2 separate regions of the Homo sapiens genome follow, and region 1 is linked to region 2. Evidence: fine-mapped expression QTL. A gene starts in region 2. The other region holds a variant in brackets. All regions are shown on one strand. Distances are between the middles of the regions.

What was found.
Region 1: its variant is fine-mapped to the expression of PNMA8B in whole blood (TOPMed, PIP 0.91).

What each region holds. Positions count from the first base shown.
Region 1 is chr19:46,469,577-46,481,285 of GRCh38, reverse strand. PNMA8A (PNMA family member 8A) reads left to right here and starts at 9,723. Exons shown (of 3, transcript NM_018215.4): 1 at 9,723-9,949; 2 at 10,172-11,553. The coding sequence starts at 10,251. The variant G/A (reference allele first, on the strand shown) is at 6,432.
Region 2 is chr19:46,491,588-46,502,935 of GRCh38, reverse strand. PNMA8B (PNMA family member 8B) reads left to right here and starts at 7,069. Exons shown (of 1, transcript NM_020709.3): 1 at 7,069-11,348. The coding sequence starts at 7,471. The coding sequence ends at 9,378.

The sequences.
Region 1 (11,709 bases), 22 kb after region 2:
TAAAAACGTGTACTTTTACTGCTGCGTTCAGGTTTTCAGCCATAGAATATTCTAGAAAAAAATAGTGATAACATTTATTTCACCGCTATAACCCTGAATGTGTAGCTGTGTTTTTTAAAAAAACATTTTTTTACAATTGTAGAATATGTAACATGCCTCCAGAAACGTGCCCTAAACACAAATATATAATTTGGCAAATAATTACATAGCAAGTCCTATGTTACTGTCATCTGATCTAGAAATCATCGTCCTCCCAGAAGCCCCTCATGTGCTCTGGCCATCTCAAATCCCTCCCTGCCCCAGGGATAAATAACATCCTGTTTTGTGATAAACGCTGCCTTTTCTATACACGTGTATGCTTATTAACAAACTATGAATTTCTCCACACGGTAGATTTGATTATGTTTGAATCTTACATGAATGTAATCCTATTGGTGGATTGTTTTTAATGTATGTGTGTGTGTGTTTCAGAAAAAATACATTAAGAAAAGAAAAGGACATGGGGCCTCTCGGTTTCCTGGCCACAATTCCTCACTTGGAATGTTGTTCCCTCACTGTAGAGAGTGGAGACAGCTGCTGGCGTTTTTTCTGTCAGAAGGAAATTCAGGGCCTGCAGCTGTGGCTGTAACCCGACCACCACCCCCGCCTCCCGCCCCAGCTCAAAGGAGAACACATCTCTTCTCCCGCCGCATAATCCTAAGGTTTTATTGGTTATTTCCAGAGAGAGAGAGAGAGCTAACTCAGAACGGCCCAGGATAGAGTTGCTAGGATTGTGGCATAAAACTACTGGACTTTATGTTCTTAATGTTTTGTTTGTTTTTTGAGACGGAGTCTCGCTCTGTCACCAGGCTGGAGTGCAGTGGCGCGATCTCGGCTCATTGCAACCTCCACATCCCAGGTTCAAGCAATTCTCCTGCCTCAGCCTCCCGAGTAGCTGGGACTACAGGTGCCTGCCACCACGCCTGGCTAATTTTTGGATTTTTAGTAGAGACGGGGTTTCACCATGTTGGCCAGGATGGTCTTGATCTCTTGACCTCATGATCCACCCGCCTCGGCCCCCCAAAGTGCTGGGATCACAGGCATGAGCCACTGCACCCGGCCGTTTTTAATTTTTTATCTTACAAATAGACACAGGGTTGGTGGGAGGGCAGGTGTCTCCCTATGTTGCCTAGCCTTGAACTCTTGGCCTCAAGCAATCCTCCCATCTCGGGCTATTTTATTTTATTTCATTTATTTTATTTTATTTTTTGAGACAGAGTCTTGCTCTGTCACCCACGCTGGAGTACAGTGGTGTGATCTTGGCTCACTGCAACCTCCACCTCCCGGGTTCAAACGATTCTCCTGAGTCTCCTGAGTAGTTGGGATTACATGCATGGGCCACCATGCCTAGCTAATTTTTGCATTTTTAGTAGAGACGGGGTTTCACCATGTTGGGCAGGCTAATCTCGAACTCCTGACCTCAAGTGATCTGCCCGCCTCAGCCTCCCAAAGTGCTGGGATTACAGGCGTGAGCCACTGCAACCAGCTGACACTGTAACTTTTGAAAAGCATCATATTTTATTTATTTTTTGTTTTTTGAGACGGAGTCTCACTCCGTTGCCCAAGCTGGAGTGCAGTGGCACAATCTTGGCTCACTGCAAGCTTCGCCTCCCGGGTTCACGCCATTCTCCTGCCTCAGCCTCCCGAAGAGCTGGGACTACAGGCGCCTGCCACCACATCCGGCTACATTTTTGTATTTTTTTTTTAGTAGAGACAGGGTTTCACCATGTTAGCCAGGATGGTTTCGATCTCCTGACCTCGTGATCCACCCGCCTCAGCCTCCCAAAGTGCTGGGATTACAGGGGTGAGCCACCGCGCCCGGCCATATTTTCAAACAAGTTAAGAAGTCACACCTGAATCCAAGCAACATAGATGTCTGTAGGGCATCAGCCACCAGCCCTTCTCAGCTCTTCATTTGAAAGACCGGAAAATAGAGAACGACCTGCATAGCCATCCATAGGGGACTCGGTAATTAACCTATGGCAGTGGCTGTCACATGTGTTTGATCATGATCCGTGATAAGAAATACATTTTGCTGTGACCTAGGAGACACACACACACGTAGATATAATAGAAAATAAAGCCAGGCATGGTAGCTCACACCTGTAATCCCAGCACTTTGGGAGGCCGAGGCGGGCAGATCACCTGAGGTCAGGAGTTTGAGACCAGCCTGGTCAACATGGTGAAACCCTGCCTCTGCTAAAAATACAAAAATTAGCCGGGCATGGTGGCATGCACCTGTAATCCTCGCTGAGATCGCACCACTGCACTCCAGCCTGAGTGACAGAGCAAGATTCTGCCTCAATTAAAAAGAAAAGAAAAGAAAAGAAAAAAAATAATTTAAAAAAGGAAACTCTGCAGCAAGAAGGGGCTCTCACAGAACAAATTGGACAGAGCCAGCCAGGTTGAGTCACAGAACCACCATGATGGGTTGTTGCAACTGACTCAGGAGGAAACATCTAGGCGGGATCCCAGAGCCCCCTGGACTTTCTTTGGGTTCAGTGTTTATGGAAACTCTGTGGGTTCTCACTGAACATACACAGCAGGGCAAAATAAAAACTCAAAGGTGAAACACAGCGGAAGAGGATGGAAGGAGAACCCTAAACTGGAAGTGCAGAGATGGAGGGGAGGGTTGGGGCTGCAGGGATGCTTTGTCATGGAAACCACAGTGCCAGTTGTTGCCTTGGAAACCACAGCACATCGTGTTGTCATGGAAACCACTGTAATGATTCCTGTTAAGGGTGCTTGAACTATTTTTAAATCAGCTAGCAATCACTGTGGCTCTTTAATGGGAGAGCAGGCAGGCAGCTGACTCCACTTCACACACACACGCACACACACATATACACACATAGTTGTACCTTTATAATATTTAGGCTGAGGCAAAATTAATTGCAGTTTTTGCCATTGAAAGTAATGGCAAAAACATGGCCAGATGCAATGAAATGGCTCATGCCTGTAATCCCAGCACTTTGGGAGGCTGAGGCGGGAGGATCACTTGAGCTCAGGAGTTTGAGAGCCTGGCCAACATGATGAAACCCTATCTCTACTAAAAGTACAAAAATTAGCCAGGTGTGGTGGTGCACGCCTGTAGTCCCAGCTACTTGAGAGGCTGAGGCAGGAGAATTGCTTGAACCTGGGAGGCAGAGGTTGCAGTGCGCCACTGTACTCCAGCCTAGGAGACAGAGCAAGACTCTGTCTCAAAAAAAAAAAAAAAAAAAAAAAAAAAAAAAAAAAAACCAGGTGTAGTGGCTCATGCCTGTCATCCCAGCACTTTGGGAGGCTGAGGCGGGTGAATCACCTGAGGTCGGGAGTTCGAGACCAGCCTGACTAACATGGAGAAACCCTGTCTCTACTAAAGATGCAAAATTAGCCAGGTGTGGTGGCACATGCCTGTAGTCCCAGCTACCTGGGAGGCTGAGTCAAGAGGACTGCCTGAGCCCAGGAGATGAAGGCTGCGGTGAGCTGTGATTAAGCCACTGCACTCCAGCCTGGGTGACAGAGTGAGACCCCATCTCATAAAATAAAATAAAATAAAATAAAATAAAATAAAATAAAATAAAATAAAAATTGTGGAATATTCCAAACTCAAAGTCAAGAATAGAGAATTGACTGGGCACGGTGGCTCATGCCTATAATTCCAGAACTTTGGGAGGCTGAGACAGGAGTTGGAGACCATCTTACCCAACATAGTGATACCCTGGCCCTACAAAAAAATTTTAAAAATTAGCTGGGCGTGGTGGTGCATGCCTGTGGTCCCAGCTACTCAGGAGGCTGAGGCAGGAGGCTCGCTTGTGCCCAGGAGGTTGAGTCTGTAGTGAGTTGTGATCCTGCCACTGCACTGTAGCCTGGGAGATAGAGCAAGATCCTGTCTCAAGAAGAAAAAAAGCTGGGTGTGGTGGCTCATGCCTGTAATCCTAGCACTTTGGGAGGCCGAGGCGGGCGGATCACGGGGTCAGAAGATCGAGACCATCCTGGCTAACATGGTGAAACCTCATCTCTACTAAAAATACAAAAAATTAGCCGGGCGTGGTGGCGGGCACCTGTAGTCTCAGCTATTTGGGAGGCTGAGGCAGGAGAATGGCGTGAACCCGGGAGGTGGAGCTTACAGTGAGCCGAGATCGCGCCACTGCAAGCCAGCCTGGGTGACAGAGCGAGACTCCGTCTTAAAACAAAACAAAACAAAACAAAGTACAAAAATTTGCCAGGCATAGTGGCGGGTCCCTGTAATCCCAGCTACTTGAGAGGTTGAGGCAGGAGAACTGCTTGAACCCAGGAGGCAGAGGCTGCAGTGAGCCGAGGTCGCGCCACTGCACTCCAGCCTGGGTGACAAAGTGAGACTCAGTCTCGAAAAAAAAAGAATTGATATTTATATAACTAATCCTCATGCATCCCGTGCCATTCTTCATCAAATCTTAATACTATGCTAAATTTATTTACACCTTTTTTTTTTTTTTTTTTTTTTTTTTAGCATTATTGGCTGGACTCAGCAGCTCATGTCTGTAATCCCAGCACTTTGGGAGGCCGAGGCAGGCGGATCACTTGAGGTCAGCAGTTTGAGACCAGCCTGGGCAACATGGGGAAACCCCTTCTCTACTAAAAATACAAAAATTAGCTCAGCATGGTGGCACGTGCCTGTAATCACGGCTACTCAGGAGGCTAAGGTAGGAGAATCGTTTGAACCCTGCAGGTGGAGGCTGAGTGCGCCACTGCACTCCAGCCTGGGGGACAGAGTAAGACTCTGTCTCAGAAAAAAAAAAAAAAAGAGATTTATATAATTAACCCTTATGTATCCCTTGCCATTCTTTATTAAATCTTAATACTATGCTAAATTTATTTACACATCTTTAAACAAAATTATTGTTTAAATAGGCTGTGTCCTACCTCCCATATGACTTGCCCTCTTCTTCTCCCCAGAGATAGTCACTTGGAGGATTATTGCATTTAAAAATCCAGTATTTATCAAAACTCAGTGTCTGTCATTCCCTTGCATGCCAAAATAAATAACTGAAAAAGAGAGAAGAAAAAACAGACAGTGTCTAATTCTAACTGAGTCACTGTGTGACTCAGTTTCCACTGCAGCAACTTTGTCTGCAGCCTGGATCACAAACAAGCTCCCGCATTTGTAAAACTACTTGGCAAACATAGCAAAAGCCTCTGAGATTCAGCAAACATCCATTCCATTTCATTTTAGTTATGATGTTTTACAATCCACTGCTGGTATAAATTTACTTTTTATCCTGTCTAGATTGACGATTTTCTTCTTCTTCTTTTATTTTTTTATTATTATTTTTTTTTGGTCTGACAAATCCTTAGCAGAATTTTCAAACACACTGAGATGTTTTGTTTTCTCTTTGAAGAGAAAGTTCCAGAACTTTGATTCTGTGCTCATGCACTGGGGTTGGGTGGCATTCCTGAAGGGGCAGCCAGGACTGTTAGGAATATTGGCTCTGCAGAAAGCTGAAACCTGGCTTTTGAGGCAAAGCTGAAGGCATCTCTCTCCCTCCCTTGCCCCCCATCTCTCCATTCTGTAACGCATTATTTGTTCACTTTTGTAGTAAAATACACATAACATAAAATTCACTATTTTAACCTATATTTATTTTTCAAAAAATAATTTACTTTTTTTTTTTGTTTGTGAGACGGAGTTTCACTCTTGTTGCCCAGGCTGGAGTGCAATGGCACAATCTCAGCTCACCGCAACCTCCGCCTCCTGGGTTCAAGCGATTCTCCTGCCTTAGCCTCCCAAGTACCTGGGATTACAGGCATGCACCACTATGCCCGGCTAATTTTTGTATTAGTAGTAGACACAGGGTTTCTCCATGTTGGTCAGGCTGGTCTTGAACCCCTGATCTCAGGTGAGCTGCCTGCCTTGGCCTCCCACAGTGCTGGGATTACAGGCGTGAGCCATCGTGCCCAGCCCGTCTTCATTTTTCTACCTTCACTCCTACTAGCGTTCCTGGACCCAGATGTCCTGGATGCAGAGGTCCCTCCTGTTACGGTGGTAGACGCATCTCATTCCCATGGGGGTCCCAAATACTTCTCTAGAGTAACTTTTTTTTTTTTTTTTTTTTTTGAGACGGAGTCTTGCTCTGTCGCCCAGGCTAGAGTGCAGTGGCGTGATCTCGGCTCACTGCAAGCTCTGCCTCCCGAGTTCACGCCATTCTCCTGCCTCAGCCTCCTGAGTAGCTGGGACTACAGGCGCCCGCCACCACGCCCGGCTAATTTTTGTTGTTGTTGTTGTATTTTTAGTAGAGACAGGGTTTCACCATGTTAGCCAGGGTGGTCTCGATCTCCTGACCCACGATCCGCCCGCCTTGGCCTCCCAAAGTGCTGGGATTACAGGCGTGAGCCCGCGCCGGCCTCTCTTTCTTTTTTTGAGACGAAGTCTC[G/A]CTCTTGTCCCCCAGGCTGGAATGCCATGGTGCAGCCTCGGCTCACCATGTTGGCCAGGCCATTCTCCTGCCTCAGCCTCCCGAGTAGCTGCGATTACAGGAGCTTGCCACCAGGCCCGGCTAATTTTTTTGGATTTTTAGTAGAGACGGGGTTTCACCATGTTAGCCAGGATGGTCTCGATCTCCTGACGTCCAGATCCACCCGCCTCAACCTCCCAAAGGGTGGGATTACAGACGTGAGCCACCGCGCCCAGCCTCACAGGAACACTCTTGTTCTTGCATCCTTGAGCTTCCAAATAAGAAGTTCAACGATCTACCCTCTGGTTTTCATGCTGTGAGGAAGCCCAAGCCACATCAGTGCTTCCATCAACATTTCCCAGCTGAGCCCAGCTTTCAAAGGATTTCAGCCCAGGCACCAGACATGTGAGTGAAGAAACTCCCAGATGATTCTAGCTCTCAGTCATTTGAGTCACCCCCAACTGTCACGGGTACGACTAGGTGCGGCGGGTGTTGTGGGCAGTAAAGGTATTTACCAAGACAGTTGTAGGTAAAGAAAGGCAGATTTATTAGAGAAGATATGAAAATACATTGCACGGTTGCAATGGGCAGCACAGCAGAGAAGGGGGCTGTCTGCAAAAAGGCAGGGACTGGAAGTTTCATAGGGGTATGCTGGAGGGGGCTACATGCAGAAAGAGGTCATTGTGCCCATGGGGGATTGTGATTAGCCATCTCTCAGAAAAATTGTTCATTGTTCTTCCCAACCTGGAATGCTGTGAACCCGGGAGGTGGGGCTTGCAGTGAGCCGAGATTGCGCCACTGCACTCCAGCCTGGGCGACAGAGCGAGACTCTGTCTCAAAAAAGAAAAAAAAAAAGTGTTCCAGTGAATGAGGAAGAAGCTGCGTGCCCTTCTGTAACATAGTCTGAGAAGCCACATAGCTTCCTTTCCACTAAACTCCATTGGTTAAAGTAGTCACAAGTCTGCTCAGATTCACGAGGAGGGGACACAGATCGTCACTTCTCAATAGAAGTGTCGGAGAATTTATGGCTATGTTTTTAAACCACTGCCTAAAAATATACACTCATTCTTCCACTGATATGTAGAATTTCAACATATAAAGCACATGAGATTTAAAGACTTTAATCATAGCTAGAGTGTTTATTGGAATATTCGGTGTGAATTATGTGAATAATCAGAGGTTAACGATTTGAATGACACAACTTTTTAGCACAAAATATGATGGAAACTTGGGCAATCACACAAGTATTGATGATGCCCAAATTTAGGAATGCCAGAGATGACAGTGAAATGAACATTTGGCTATTTGGCCTTGCAAATGTCAGTTTCAAAAATGAACCCAAAGAACAGATTTTGGTTGAATACCAAGGCCCAAATTGTACTTCCATGCATCTTTCAGATGAGATCCCCCCGAATCTTCAAAACTTCCAAATCAGGAAGATTTTTTATTAGAATTCCTATTACAGAGAAAAGAAATAAGCTCAGCGGGGTCAAATTATTTCTCTAAGATCACACAGCCAGGAAGGGACATTGGTAGGTGGATCAGTGAGGGACTGGCAAAAAAAAAAAAAAAAAAACAGATGGCCAGTCCAACCGAGTCTCATAGGAGTGCTTAATTAATTAGTTTATTTTTTTTGAGACAGGGTCTCCTGGGTTCAAGCAATCCTCCCACCTCAGCCTCCCGAATAGCTGAGACCACAGGTGACCCCTATCACACCTGGCTAATTTTTTGCGTTTTTGGTAGGGACGGGGTTTTGCCATGTTGCCCAGGATGGTCTCGAACTCCCCAGCTCAAGTGATCCGCCCTCCTCAGCCTCCCAAAGTGTTGGGATTACATGCGTGAGCCACAGCACTGGGCATTAATAAACTATTAACAAAGTTCTTGCTCATGGGCAGCAAGGTTGAGGTAGGAGGCCCAGGGGACTCCACTGAGGATCACATTGAAGACTGGCCAAAACCTGGAAAAGGCACCGAAAGCCTCTCTCCATAAGACATGCCTGCCAGCACCATGACAGTTTACCATTGCCATGGCAACACCCATAAGTTACTGCCAATTTGCTAATTCTGAAAACCCACCCCTTAATTAGCACGTCATTAAAAGTGGGTATAAATGTGACTGCAGCCTTGCCCCGAGGTGCTATTCTCAGCACACTGCCTAGAGGGTAGCCCTCCTTGTTAGGTTTTGGAGGGAAGGTGAGGGTTAAAGACACACAGACAGAAGGCGGCTCAACAGCAACTCAGGTATACTGCAGACACCTGTGGAAGTGGGTAACCAGCCTAATGCCAGAGCCCACTGCTGCTTATAGGCTGGGGGTACTTATAGTTATGGGTGGGAGGGGTCTGAGCAGTATGGTTTGCTGCCCAGCAGGATGTTGATAAGATGGTTCCATGATGAGGCGGTTCTGGCCCTTGTTCTGGTGGAATGTGGTGTTCTCTGCACTTTCTCCCAGCAGAATATGATAGGGATGTTTCTTCAGTTGGGCCTTTGCACGATAGGGTATGATAATGTTTCTTTAGCTGGGCCTTTGTCCGCCTTGTGGTCAGGTGATTAGGCAGGATGTTTCTCATTGGCCCGAACCCCCGTGGAATATTTCACTTTGACCAAGATCTGCAAAATAGTCAGGGCTTACAAAATGGTTGCAGTTTGGACTAACACTTCTCTGTAGGGGCAGTCACTGAGCTGTAACATTGTCCCCTGCCTGGAGGATGCCAAGAACCTGCCCTGAATCACGTTGAGGAAACAAGAAAAGGCGAGGCATTATCCTCATGCTAGAAGGGGTCGGGGAGGAGACTAAGAAATTTCTAGAAGTTTCTGGAAATTCCTGGAAGAACCCAGCAGCTTGTAAGAGAGAAGGCTACAAGCCCAACAGGAACTGCACCTGCTGTTGGAGGAACCCAAGAAGATTAAAGCCTCGTTTTCCTCCTTTCTTGATTTCTAGTGTCTCCCAAGAGTTGCGTTGGGTGAATCCAACAGGTGGGGCAGAGGATAATACAGTCAGTGGGTGCAGCCATAGGTGTTGGCGCTTCTCATCGACCTAACCCCCGTTCGCGAGGCCCACTTGGGTTGAAAGAGGGCCTCCGTGGAGGCGCCACCGGAGTGTATCCAGACCCGCTTGCTCTGCGACCTGAACAGGCCACTCTTGCACCCGGCTCCCTAGGTCCAATTGCAGCGCCGGCGCGCCGGCCGGGCTCAGCCCTAGCAACCCACGCCCGGTTGCCATGGAGACGTCGGCACCTGCGCAGCCCAAGACCCCCGAGCGGCGGTGCGGGAGCCAGTGCGCAGGCGCGCGCTGCGACGCCAACCTCGGCTTCTCGCCGCTAACGGCATCGAGTCTGGACGCCCCGTGACCCGCCTGGGCCGGAGCGGGGGCGGACGGCGCCTTCTTGGCCCTTTCTGCCTCTAGCAGCGGCGCCGGGGTAGCCGGAGCCAGCGACTGGGAAACGGCTGCATTCCACTGCGTCTCCTTGGCCTGGCTGGGCGGTCGGAGGCTGATCTGCCAAGTAAGTCCCGGCTGGGCAGGCGGAGCGTCAGGCCCGGGGGAGGGTCCTAGGGCCTTTTGCTGCAGATTCAGGGACACGTGTGAGCACCGGGGCCTGGGTTGGGGAGGAGGGTGTTGGGAAAGCGCCAGGCCTCCTGCAGGCCAGCCGCGGAGGGGGCAGCTAGGATCTGTGAGCTTGGTCATCTTCCTGGGAACGTGACCTCGCTCCCTTGTCACCTTGCAGGATTACTGTTTGGAGACCGCTGCAGCCCACGTCCACCTGATAGACTATTTACTACACATAGTAGGTTCAGAGCCGCTAAATGTCCAAGACCATGGCGATGAACCTTCTGGAGGATTGGTGCAGGGGAATGGAAGTGGACATCCACAGGTCCTTGTTGGTCACAGGCATCCCAGAGGACTGTGGGCAGGCAGAAATTGAGGAGACCTTGAATGGGGTCCTCTCCCCACTGGGCCCGTACCGCGTGCTCAACAAGATTTTTGTGAGGGAAGAGAATGTTAAAGCTGCCCTCATTGAGGTTGGTGAAGGTGTGAATCTGAGCACCATCCCCCGTGAATTCCCAGGAAGGGGTGGTGTCTGGAGAGTGGTCTGTAGAGACCCTACCCAGGATGCCGAGTTTTTAAAAAATCTGAATGAATTCCTGGATGCCGAGGGGCGCACCTGGGAGGATGTGGTCCGCCTGCTCCAGCTCAACCACCCCACCCTGTCCCAGAACCAGCATCAGCCCCCAGAGAACTGGGCAGAAGCTCTGGGGGTGCTTCTGGGAGCAGTGGTGCAGATCATCTTCTGCATGGATGCCGAGATCCGCAGCCGGGAGGAAGCCAGGGCCCAGGAGGCCGCTGAATTCGAGGAGATGGCAGCCTGGGCTTTAGCAGCAGGGAGGAAGGTGAAGAAAGAACCGGGGCTTGCAGCAGAGGTGGGTTCTGCCTTAAAGGCAGAGACCCCCAACAACTGGAATGCCACGGAAGACCAGCATGAGCCTACCAAACCTTTGGTTCGCAGGGCTGGAGCTAAGTCTCGCTCCAGGAGAAAGAAGCAGAAGAAGAACTCCAGGCAGGAAGCAGTGCCCTGGAAAAAACCCAAAGGCATCAATTCCAACAGCACAGCTAACTTGGAGGATCCTGAGGTGGGTGATGCTGAAAGCATGGCGATCTCAGAGCCGATCAAGGGCAGCAGAAAGCCCTGTGTGAATAAGGAGGAGTTGGCTTTGAAGAAGCCCATGGCGAAATGTGCCTGGAAGGGTCCCAGAGAGCCACCTCAGGATGCCCGGGCAGAAGCCGAGAGCCCAGGAGGCGCCTCTGAGTCAGACCAAGATGGTGGCCATGAAAGCCCACCAAAGAAGAAGGCCGTGGCCTGGGTGTCTGCCAAGAACCCCGCTCCCATGAGGAAGAAGAAGAAGGTGAGCTTGGGCCCTGTCTCCTACGTCTTGGTTGACTCAGAAGATGGCAGGAAGAAGCCGGTGATGCCAAAGAAAGGGCCAGGCTCAAGAAGGGAGGCATCAGATCAGAAGGCCCCTCGGGGCCAGCAGCCTGCCGAGGCAACAGCCTCAACCTCTAGGGGTCCGAAGGCCAAGCCAGAAGGCTCTCCTCGGCGTGCCACCAATGGTGAGAATGATAGCAGAAGTGACTGGGCTCGTGCCAGCAAGTGGATGAGGCAGGAGGAGCAGGAGTGGCAGGTGGGGCAGAGGAGCCCGAGGAGGTGGTGGGTCAAGCGGGTGATGAGGAGGACCCTGGTGCATGGCAGGAGGTGGATGACACACC
Region 2 (11,348 bases):
TTTGAGAACCCTTGCTCTGGCCGGGGGCGGTGGCTCACACCTGTAATCCCAGCACTTTGGGAGGCTGAGGCGGGCGGATCACGAGGTCAGGAGATTGAGATCATCCTGGCTAACACGGTGAAACCCCGTCTCTACTAAAAAAATTAAAAAATTAGCCGGATGTGGTGGCAGGCACCTGTAGTCCCAGCTACTTGGGAGGCTGAGGGAGGAGAATGGCGTGAACCCGGGAGGCGGAGCTTGCAGTGAGCTGAGATTGCGCCACTGCACTCCAGCCTGGGCAACAGAGTGAGACTCCGTCTCGAAAAAAAAAAAACGAAAACAAAGAAAGAGAACCCTTGCTCCAATAGCGCCATTTCCAGTTAAGCAGATTCACTTGTATTTTTCTCGAACACAAAATGAGGGGGAGAAGAATTTCGAACAATTTTTTCAAGCGATCCTCCCACCTCAGTCTCCTGAGTTGCTGGGACTCCAAGTGCATGCCATCAGGCCCAGCTAATTTTTGTATTTTTAGTAGAGACGGGGTTTCACCATGTTGTCCAGGCTGGTCTTGAACTCCTGGCCTCATGTGATCCACCCGCCTCGGTCTCCCAAAGTGCTGGGATTACAGGCGTGAGCCACCACGCCCGGCCTTGAACGCTTTACGCCCTTTCTTCCAGCTGTTTCCATTGGAACCTTACAGGCAGTGGCTTGGTCAGTCATAGGCTCATCTCTGCCTAAGAAGAGATCATGATTCCAGGGGAAATGCCCAGGGCGGGACTGGGCAGGACATGTTGGGGATCCTGATGTCCCTGCCTGGCTGGTCCCTGTAAGATCTTCTGTGCACAGGGCTTGGGGTTCATAGTCTATCCTTTTTTTTTTTTTTCTTTTTTTTTGAGACAGGGTCTTACTCTGTCATCCAGGCTGGAGTGCAGTGGCTCAGTCATGGCTCACTGCAGCCTCGACCTGGCAGGCCCAAGCAATCCTCCCACCTCAGCCTCCTGAGTAGCTGGGATTACAGGCACCTGCCAACATGACCAGCTAATTTTTCTTTTCTTTTTTTTTTTTTCAGACGGGAGTCTCACTCTGTTGCCCAGGCTGGAGTGCAGTGGCGCAATCTCGGCTCACTGCAAGCTCTGCCTCCCGGGTTCACACCATTCTCCTGCCTCAGCCTCCCAAGTGGCTGGGACTACAGGTGCCCACCACCACACCTGGCTAATTTTGCGTATTTTTAGTAGAGACGGGGTTTCACTGTGTTAGCCAGGATGGTCTTGATCTCCTGACCTCATGATCCACCCACTTCAGCCTCCCAAAGTGCTGGGATTACAGGCATGAGCCACCATGCCTGGCCATGACCAGCTAATTTTGGTATTTTTGGTAGAGATGGGGTTTCACCATGTTGGGCAGGCTGGTCTTGAACTCCTGGCCTCAAGTGATCTGCCTGCCTTAACCTCCCAAAGTGCTGGGATTACAGGTGTGAGCCACCACACACAGCCCAACATATGAATTTTATTTTATTTTATTTTATTTTATTTTATTTTATTTTATTTTATTTATTTATTTAGAGACAGTCATGCCTGTCACCCAGGCTGGAGTTCAGTGGTACAATCTCAGCTCACTGCAACCTCCGCCTTCCAGGTTCAAGCGGTTCTCCTGCCTCAGCCTCCTGAATAGCTGGGATTCCAGCCACTCACCATCACACCTGGCTAATTTTTGTATTTTTAGTAGAGATGGGGTTTCGCCATGTTGGCCAGGCTGGTCTCGAACTCCTGACCACAAGCAATCCACCTGCCTCAGCCTCCCAGAATGATGGGATTACACGCGTGAGCCACCACACCCAGGCTCCAACATATGAATTTTAAAGAGACATAATTCAGCCTCTGTACCTTTGGGTCCTCTTATAAACCAGACGCTCTCCTGGGGAGTCCCCTCTGCATTCCAGCGTGCCACCTCATCCTGTCCCACGGTGAGAATGAAATCTTTGTCCCAGTAACACTCAGGGCCAGGCACTGTTCCAACACACACACACACACACACACACACACACACACACACACACACATCCCGCTTAAATCCTCACAACCTCACGATAAACTGGGGCCACAGAGCCATGAAGAGACAAAGTGACTTGCTTGGTTATTGGGCAAATGTAAAAGACTAACCCGGATGGCACTTTGATCTTGGACTTCCAGACTCTGGAACTGGGAGAAAATAGATTTCTGTTATCTAAGCCATCCAGCCTGTGACACTGTTGAAAAATCAGTCTACAATGATCTGGGTCCAGAACCTAACTCCATTTTAGCACTTACAGCGGCTTTGTGGGAAGTAGGAAAGACTCTTGCTCTGCGTTGACCATTGCTAAAAGCATCCCTTCAGCCCCTCAAATGACTCAACATAGAGTTACCATGTGCCCCGGGATTCCTCTCCTAAAAGTGTCTGCCCAAGAGAAATGAAAACATATGTCTACATAGAAATTTGCACACAGCATATCCATCATGCTCCTATGTTCCTAGCATATTCATGATAGCCCAAAAGTGCAAACAACCCAAATGTCCATCAACTGATGAATGGATAAAGAAAATTTGATTTATCCATTCCATGGAACATTGCTCAGCCATAAAAAGAATGGAGGCTGGGTGCAGTGGCTCACACCTGAAATCCCAGCACTTTAGGAGACCGAGATGGGCAGATGGGCAGGCAAACTCCTGAGGTCAGGAGTTTGAGACCAGCCTGGCCAACATGGTGAAACCCTGTCTGTACTAAAAATACAAAAATAACTGGGTGTGGCGGTGGGTGCCTGTAATCCCAGCTACTCGGGAGGCTGAGGCAGGTGAACTCGGAGAACTCCTTGAACTCGGGAGGCAGAGGTTGCAGTGAGCTGAGATTGTGCCACTGCACCCCAGCCTGGGTGACAGAGCGAGACTCTGTCTCTAAATAAATGGAACAGAGTATTGGATGACACTTGCCACACAACACTGAACAAATGATGCTGAGTGAAAGAAGCCAGACACAAAGGAACAACATATTGTATGACTCCATTCATATGAAATGTCCAGAATGGGGAAGTCCGTAGAGACAGAAAGCAGATTAGTGGTTGCCGGGGGCTGGGGGGAGATTAGAGGGTTGGAGGGTGATGGCTAAGCAGTGTGGGATTTCTTTTTGAGGTGATGAAAATGTTTTAAAATCAATCGTGGTGTTGGTCACACAACTCTGAATGAACTAACAGCCATTGAGTTGTGCACTTTAAATGGGTGGGTTATATGGTATATGAATCTTCATTTTTACAAGAATTTCACCTGTGGTTATCCACAACGACTTAGAAAAGTGTCAGCTTCATCGGGCATGATGGCTCACGCCTGCAATCCCTGCATTTTGGGAGGCCAAGGAAGGAGGATCACTTGAGCCCAGGAGTTTGAGACCAGCCTGGGCAACATAACAAGACCCCATCTCTACAAAAAATAAAATTAGCCAGGCGTGGTGGTGTGCTGCAGTTCCAGCTACTCTGGAGGCTGAGGTGGGAGAGGTGCTTGAAGCCAGGAGTTCAAGACTGCAGTGAGCCATGGTCATGCCACTGCACTCTAGCCTGGGAGACAGCAAGACTCTGACTCTAAAATACACACACACACACACACACACACACACACAAAGTGCAAGCTTCCTGTTTCTCTTTTTGTTGTGTTTTCCAATCTTGCAGTTATAAATAACAGTTGTGCTGAGTGTATTCACACACACACACACTCTCTCTCTCTCTCTCTCTCCCCCTAATTAATTCTTGCAAACAAATTCCCAATGGCCCTGTGTGGCTGCTGAGCCCTTGAAATACGGCTACTCCAAAGGGACTCATTATGAAAAGAGAGTGTCTGATAGCTCATAAATAATTGTTTTACATTGACAACTTGTGCAAATGACAACACTTTGTATATTTCGGGATAAATAATATATATTCTTTATTTTCTTTTTCTTTTTCCTTTTCCTTTTTTTTTTTTTTTTTTTTTTTTTTTTTTTTTTTTTTTTTGAGACAGGGTCATTCTCTTGCCCAAGCTGGAGTGCAGTGTAGCATGATCATCTCTCACTTCAGCCTTGATCTCCTGGGCTGAAGCAATCCTCCTACCTCAGCTTCCTGAGTATCAGGGACTACAGATGTGTGTCACTAAGCCTGGCTAACTTTTGTATTTTTTGTAGAGACGAGGTTTTGCCATGTTGGCCAGGCCGGTCTCAAACTCCTGGGCTCAAGTGATCTGCCTGCCTCGGCCTCCCAAAGTGCTGGGATTACAGGCGTGAGCCACTGCGCCTGGCCAAAATCTATTCTTAAAATTCATTTTTCTTCCCTCTTTTCTATTTATTGAAGGTGGCCCCCTAGGAAATTTTGTATTTTTTGTAGAGATAGGTTTTCACCATGTTGCCCGGGCTGGTCTCGAACTCCTAACCTCAAGTGATCTGCCCGCCTCAGCCTCTGAAAGTGCTGGGATTACAGGATTACATGGTGAGTCACCATATTTCTTCTTTTTTTAGATCAATAGATGCAGAAAAAGCAGCTCGTTTTTTGTTTTGTTTTGGTTTGGTTTGGTTTGGTTTGGTTTGGTTTTTTTGAGACAGCGTCTTGCTCTGTCTCCCAGGCTGGAGTGCAGTGGCGCAATCTCGGCTCAATGCAACAACCTCTGCCTCCCAGGTTCATGTGATTCTCCTGCCTCAGCCTCCAAGTAGCTGGGATTACAGGCGTGCGCTACCATGCCCAGCCTAGATTGGAGATTCAAATGTCAAAAATGACACTTTGTAATCCCAGCACTTTGGGAGGCTGAGGTGGGTGGACCACCTGAGGTCAGTGTTGGCTGGCTGCAACTAGGAGTTTTAACATTGCACGTGCGGTTCGAATTTGGGGCTGGCATTCTATTCCTGCTGGACAACGCTGCTCTGGAGAAAAGAGTCACATCACATCCATCTGTGGATCAGGAAGATCAGAGGAGGAAAAAGTGGGGGAAAATAGGAGTGAGTAAGCGGTTTGCCCAGTTGCTGTGGTAACCTTGCAGTTAAACTCTCCTTAAACATAAAAAAATCCAAACACAAAAGTAAGGGGTTGGGCCTGGTGGCAAAAACAAAAAACTCGAGGTGTTTTGGTTTCCTATTTATTTGTTTATTAACAGATGCTTTGGGCTGAGCACGGTGGCTCGTGCCTGTAATCCCAGCACTTTGGGAGGCCGACGCCGGCAGATCACCCGAGGTCAGGAGTTCCAGACCAGCCTGGCCAACATGGTGAAAATCCATCTACTAAAAATACAAAACTAGGCCGGGCACGGTGGCTCACACCTGTAATCCCAGCACTTTGGGAGGCCGAGGCGGGCGGATCACGAGGTTGGGAGTTTGAGACAAGGTTGCCCAACATAGTGAAACCCCGTCTCTACTAAAAATACAAAAAATTAGCTGGGCGTGGTGGCGGGCACCTGTAATCTCAGCTACTTGGGAGGCTGAGGCTGGAGAATGGTTTGAAGCCGGGAGGCGGAGGTTGCAGTGAACCAAGATCACGCCACTGCCCTCCAGCCTGAGTGACAGTGCGAGACTCTCTCTCAAACAAACAAACAAACAAAAAACTAGTCAGGCATGGTGGTGCATGCCTGTAGTCCCAGTTACTCGGGAGGCTGAGGCAGGAGAATGGCTTTAACCCGGGTGGTGGAGGTTGCAGTGAGCCGAGATTGCTCCATTGCACTCCAGCCTGGGCGACAGAGCAAGACTCCATCTCAAAAACAAACCAACAAAACAGATGCTTTTATAATGGTAAGTTCTCAACAAATACTTCTCTTAGCCATCTTTCATGGAGCACCAGCTGTGGGCCAGCTGCTCTTCTAAATGCTTTCCTGGATTATTCCCTTTAATCCTCATGAGAACCCTTTGAGGCCAGGCATGGTGGCTCACCATGTAATCCTGTAATCCCAGCACTTTCAGAGGCTGAGGCGGGCAGATCACTTGAGGTTAGGAGTTTGAGACCAGCCTGGGTAACATGGTAAAAACCCATCTCTACAAAAAATACAAAAACTTGCCAGACGTGATGGTGTATGCCTATAATCCCAGCTACTTGGGAGGCCTGTCATCCTTGCTACTCAGGAGGCTGAGGCAGGAGAACCGCTTGAACATGGGAGGCGGAAGTTGCAGTGAACCAAGATTGTGCCATTGCACTCCAGCCTGAGTGACAGAGCAAGACTCCATCTCCAAAACAAACAACAACAAAAAAACAAAACCCTTTGAGGTAGGGATGATGGTTGAGATATAAACCTACCAGCTGGTCTACAGAGCCAGATTCATATAGAGTAGGGGACAGCCTCATGGCCAACAAGGGACAGAGAAGCAAATGCATGTTTACAGTAGCTATGACTGACGTTCACACGCCCCAGTCTGCTGTCCCAGTCAAGGGAAATGCTTTCTTGCAAAATTCATGCCTGGTCTCACAATCATACATATGCTCAAAGCGTGTGCAAAACCACAGGATTTATTGTGCATGCATAGTTCAGAATACAGGAACGTGTATGGGAGTGAGGGCCGGTCCCATCGAGTGGGGCCTGTACCCTGCAAGTGAGGCCCATATACCCTGAATGGTGTCTTGCTCACAGGTGGTGCCTGGGCCCCCCTATTTGATACTGAGACCCATATACTGTGAATGAGGCCAGTATCCCGAGTAAGTCCTGGTCCTACGCTGCAAGGCCAGTGCCCTTTGATTTAGGCCTATATAATCCTGAATTCCACCTGGCCCCTGGAAGGGGGAATTGTAACCCCCAGTGATGCCGGTACCCTCTGGAAGGAGGCCTCTATCCCCTGAATGAGGTCGGGTATCCTTGAGTGATTTCTGGCCCTCTGTGGTTTCGGCCTTGTTTTTTGCTGGTTAATGAAAGTGGTGCTTCCAGGCCCCAAGTCCTTGTCATCGGGACCTTTAAGAAAAGCGTCTCAGGCCACAGCGACGCAGACCCCAGCTCAAGGCTGCACCGTTGCCATGGAGACGGTTGGGCGGGGGACAGGGGAGGGTGTGCGGCTCCCTCTGCGCAGGCGCACGCGCGAGCAGCCGCGTCGCAGCGGAACTGCTGAGATTCAGGCCCAGGGTGCGCGCTCAGACGCGGCGCGAGCGCCAGGCAAGCTGCGGCTGCTACCTCCCACGCCTCTCCAGGTGCACTCGGCGCCGCCCCCCTGCACCTGGCTGCGGTGCCGAGTCACTCAGGCCTGTGTCAGGGAGAGAGGGAGGGAGCTGTCCTGGAAAGCAGACACGTAAGCCCCCCGCGGATCCTCAGACAGCTCTGGAGAGGGGTCCCGGGGGAAGGTCACTGCGTCCAGCCGGCCAGCAGGCAGCTAGAGCCCCCGAGCCCCGAGCCCCACTCCAGCCTTGCCACATTCACCGGAACCGGGACTCTAAGCCCTGCAAGTGGCTTTCTAGGGTTGCATTGACACCGTGCGCTGCAGCCCACCCCTATCTCGGGCTCCCTGCTGCCCCAAGATCAGCGCCAAGGGGGCTGCACCATGGCCATGAGCCTTTTGCAGGACTGGTGCCGGAGCCTGGACGTGGACGCGCACAGGGCCCTGCTGGTCACCGGCATCCCGGAGGGCCTGGAGCAGGCAGACGTCGAAGCCGTCCTGCAGCCGACCCTCCTGCCCCTGGGCACGTTCAGGTTGCGACACATGAAGGCTTTGATGAACGAGAAGGCCCAGGCCGCCCTGGTGGAGTTTGTGGAGGACGTCAATCACGCTGCCATTCCCAGGGAGATCCCAGGCAAGGATGGGGTCTGGAGGGTTCTGTGGAAGGACCGTGCGCAGGACACGAGGGTCCTGAGGCAGATGAGACGCCTGCTGCTGGATGACGGGCCCACGCAGGCCGCGGAGGCTGGGACCCCCGGGGAGGCACCCACCCCTCCCGCTTCGGAGACGCAGGCCCAGGATTCTGGGGAGGTAACAGGGCAGGCTGGCTCGCTTCTTGGGGCAGCCAGGAACCCAAGGAGGGGCCGTCGGGGTCGCAGAAACAGAACCAGACGCAACAGGTTGACCCAGAAGGGCAAGAAGAGAAGCCGAGGAGGACGGCCGTCTGCTCCCGCGAGGAGTGAGGCCGAGGACTCTTCCGACGAGAGCCTGGGCATCGTGATCGAGGAGATCGACCAGGGCGACCTGAGCGGAGAAGAGGACCAGAGCGCGCTGTACGCCACGCTGCAGGCCGCTGCCAGGGAGCTGGTTAGGCAGTGGGCGCCCTGCAACTCCGAGGGGGAAGAAGACGGTCCCCGCGAGTTCTTGGCTCTGGTCACCGTCACCGACAAATCGAAGAAAGAAGAGGCAGAGAAGGAGCCAGCTGGGGCCGAATCCATCCGCTTGAACACCAAAGAAGACAAAAATGGTGTCCCCGACTTAGTGGCCCTGCTGGCTGTGAGAGACACCCCGGACGAGGAGCCGGTGGACAGCGACACTTCGGAGAGCGACTCGCAGGAAAGTGGGGACCAAGAAACAGAGGAGTTGGATAATCCTGAGTTCGTGGCCATTGTGGCCTATACCGACCCGTCGGACCCCTGGGCCCGGGAGGAGATGTTGAAAATCGCTTCTGTTATCGAGTCGCTGGGCTGGAGCGACGAGAAAGACAAGCGAGACCCCCTCCGACAGGTCTTGTCCGTCATGTCCAAGGACACTAACGGGACCCGCGTGAAGGTGGAAGAGGCGGGCCGCGAGGTGGACGCCGTGGTCCTGCGCAAGGCCGGGGATGACGGGGACCTCCGGGAGTGCATTTCCACCTTGGCGCAGCCGGATCTCCCTCCCCAGGCGAAGAAGGCTGGGCGTGGCCTCTTCGGGGGCTGGAGCGAGCACCGTGAGGACGAAGGGGGTCTTCTGGAGCTGGTGGCGCTCCTGGCTGCCCAGGACATGGCGGAGGTGATGAAGGAGGAAAAAGAAAACGCCTGGGAAGGCGGGAAGTACAAATACCCCAAAGGCAAACTGGGGGAGGTATTGGCGCTCCTGGCCGCCCGGGAGAACATGGGGTCCAACGAGGGGTCGGAGGAGGCTTCGGACGAACAGTCCGAGGAGGAGTCGGAGGACACCGAGAGCGAGGCGTCGGAGCCGGAGGACAGGGCATCCAGGAAGCCCCGGGCCAAGAGGGCGCGCACGGCCCCCAGGGGCCTGACTCCGGCCGGCGCGCCTCCCACCGCTTCCGGGGCCCGCAAAACCCGCGCGGGCGGCCGAGGCCGAGGCCGGGGCGTCACTCCCGAGAAGAAAGCCGGGAGCCGGGGCTCGGCCCAGGACGACGCCGCAGGAAGCAGGAAGAAGAAGGGGAGCGCGGGCGCCGGGGCCCATGCCAGGGCAGGCGAGGCCAAGGGCCAGGCGCCCACTGGATCCAAGGCCGCGCGCGGGAAGAAGGCCCGTCGGGGCCGGAGGCTGCCCCCTAAATGCCGCTAGTGGCCCCCCAAGAAGCCGCCCAGGCTGCGAGCAGGCCCCGCAGGGCACCCGCCCGCCTGTGGCCCCCGCCCTCCCCTCCCCTCTTCCTGTCCTCCGCAGACGCAATCTCCTCGCTTCACAGCGCGCCCGGGCCGCGTTTTGCCAGCGTCACGTTCCCCTCTCGGGCCCTCGCAGGCCGGGGGCGCCAGCGATCCCGACGGAGGAAGCCCGGATGGGAGGAGGAAAGAGAAGTGGGCGCCCGAGGCAGCAGCGCAGGGCCGAGATGGGGACGCGCCAAGTGGACCAGGATTGGGGGCCCGGGTTGCCCCCGGAGGGGGTGTGTGTGTGGACGCCGGGCACCTGCAGAGGCGAGCAGGGCTCTTCGTGGCGCTCTCGGGGCCTGCGCCTGGCAGGTGCTGTAGGCCGCTGTCGCCCCTACCCCAGTCTGACTGGGCCCTGGGTCTGTGGTGGAGGCTCAGTCACCAGCCGCGCAGCGCGTGTCAGGGCGCAACTCTCAGCCAGGGGAGGCCCCAGCTCCCAGCCAGGGGAAGAGATGATTCCAGAAAGGAAAGTCTGAGAGATAGAAGGCGGTTGGGAAGGGGAGGAGGAGGAAAGGGGAGAGGAACGGTGGGAGAAGGGAAAGAGGAGGAGGAGGGGGAGGGGGGAGCAGAGGGAAGACACATGCCAGCCCTGCCTACTGGGGCGCCCCTGATAACAAAGGAACCAGCCCCAGGCCAAGGCCACCTGCCCCTGACCACAAGTTGAATTTGTCACTCAGACTGCAGTGTTTCCCAACATTCTAATTATTTGCAGAGGTGTTCAATTTGGGGTAATTCACTTAAAATCCAGTTTTGGTTCTTCTGGGCTGAGTGGGCCCTGGCCCCTCCCATAGGCTGTGGCTCCCCTGGGTGCCCCCTCTCCAGTGGAGCTGACCCACCGCTCAGCGCTGGCCTTGCAGCCCTTACTAAAAGACTTGAAAGTCCCTGGGTTCACCCCCTGAGTGAATTAAAGGCCAGAGGGGCCCCGAAGGGCACTGTGAGGGACAGAGGCTCACCTGGGCAGTGCAGAAGCCGGCCGCGTGTCCCTCCTTACAGGGGATGAAATGACCTGGGGAGGAAACCCCAGCCCTGCCCTGGAGGTTCCAGAGTAGGCGGGCCGGTGCTGTGAGGCTTCACAACCTGCTGTCCCAAGCACGCTTGAGTTGTATGTGAGTCTGTGCCGTGCCGTGCCGTATGCTTCAGCTCCTGCAACCCCGGCTGAGCTCGATTTTTACCTAAATATCAGTCTCCACGGGACCCCACCTTCATTCATGCCTTCTTGTCCCTGGGGCAATGTGTGTGCTTCCTCGTCCCAATTTCCATTCCCTGGCAGTGAGGAGCCCATCGTGCCAGGGGGCCCTGCCCCACTTGTCCCTGGGAAGGAATAGGAGGGTTTGGGTGTGACCTCACAGTCCAGACCAGACTGTCCCAGTCCTATGTCAGGGACACCCAGATGTAGAAGCTGACTGAGACCTGCTGCAGGGCGTGGGTGCTCCCCTCTGCTTGGAGGCTGTCCCTGGACAGTGACCCACCCACTGAGGACCAGGCTGGGTGTACCTTGAGCTGGGCACAGCAGCCTGTGGTGTTGCCTGTGGGTGGGGAGGGCCCCAGGTGTGCTTCTCCCGTAGCAGTCCTAGGCTTCTCTCCCTGTGCCCTGTGTCACCTGGATCCTCCAGTAAAGTGAAATTCAGCACTGTACTCTCTCTGTGCTCTGGGCAGTGGGGCAGGCGGGGTGTGGGAGCGTGGGCCACAGATGTCCACGGTCTTGACTGTGGTTTGCCCAGAATACCTGGGAACTGTCCTGTCACTGGTTTACATACACTGTCCTTTGCTGCTTCGGGATCCCTGCCTGGCTCTCCCTACCCCCCAGCATCATCTCACCCCTTGCAGATCTGAGCCAGCTTCCACTCCCACCCCTGATGCCTCCCCACTTCCAGCCTCAGCTCCGAAGCC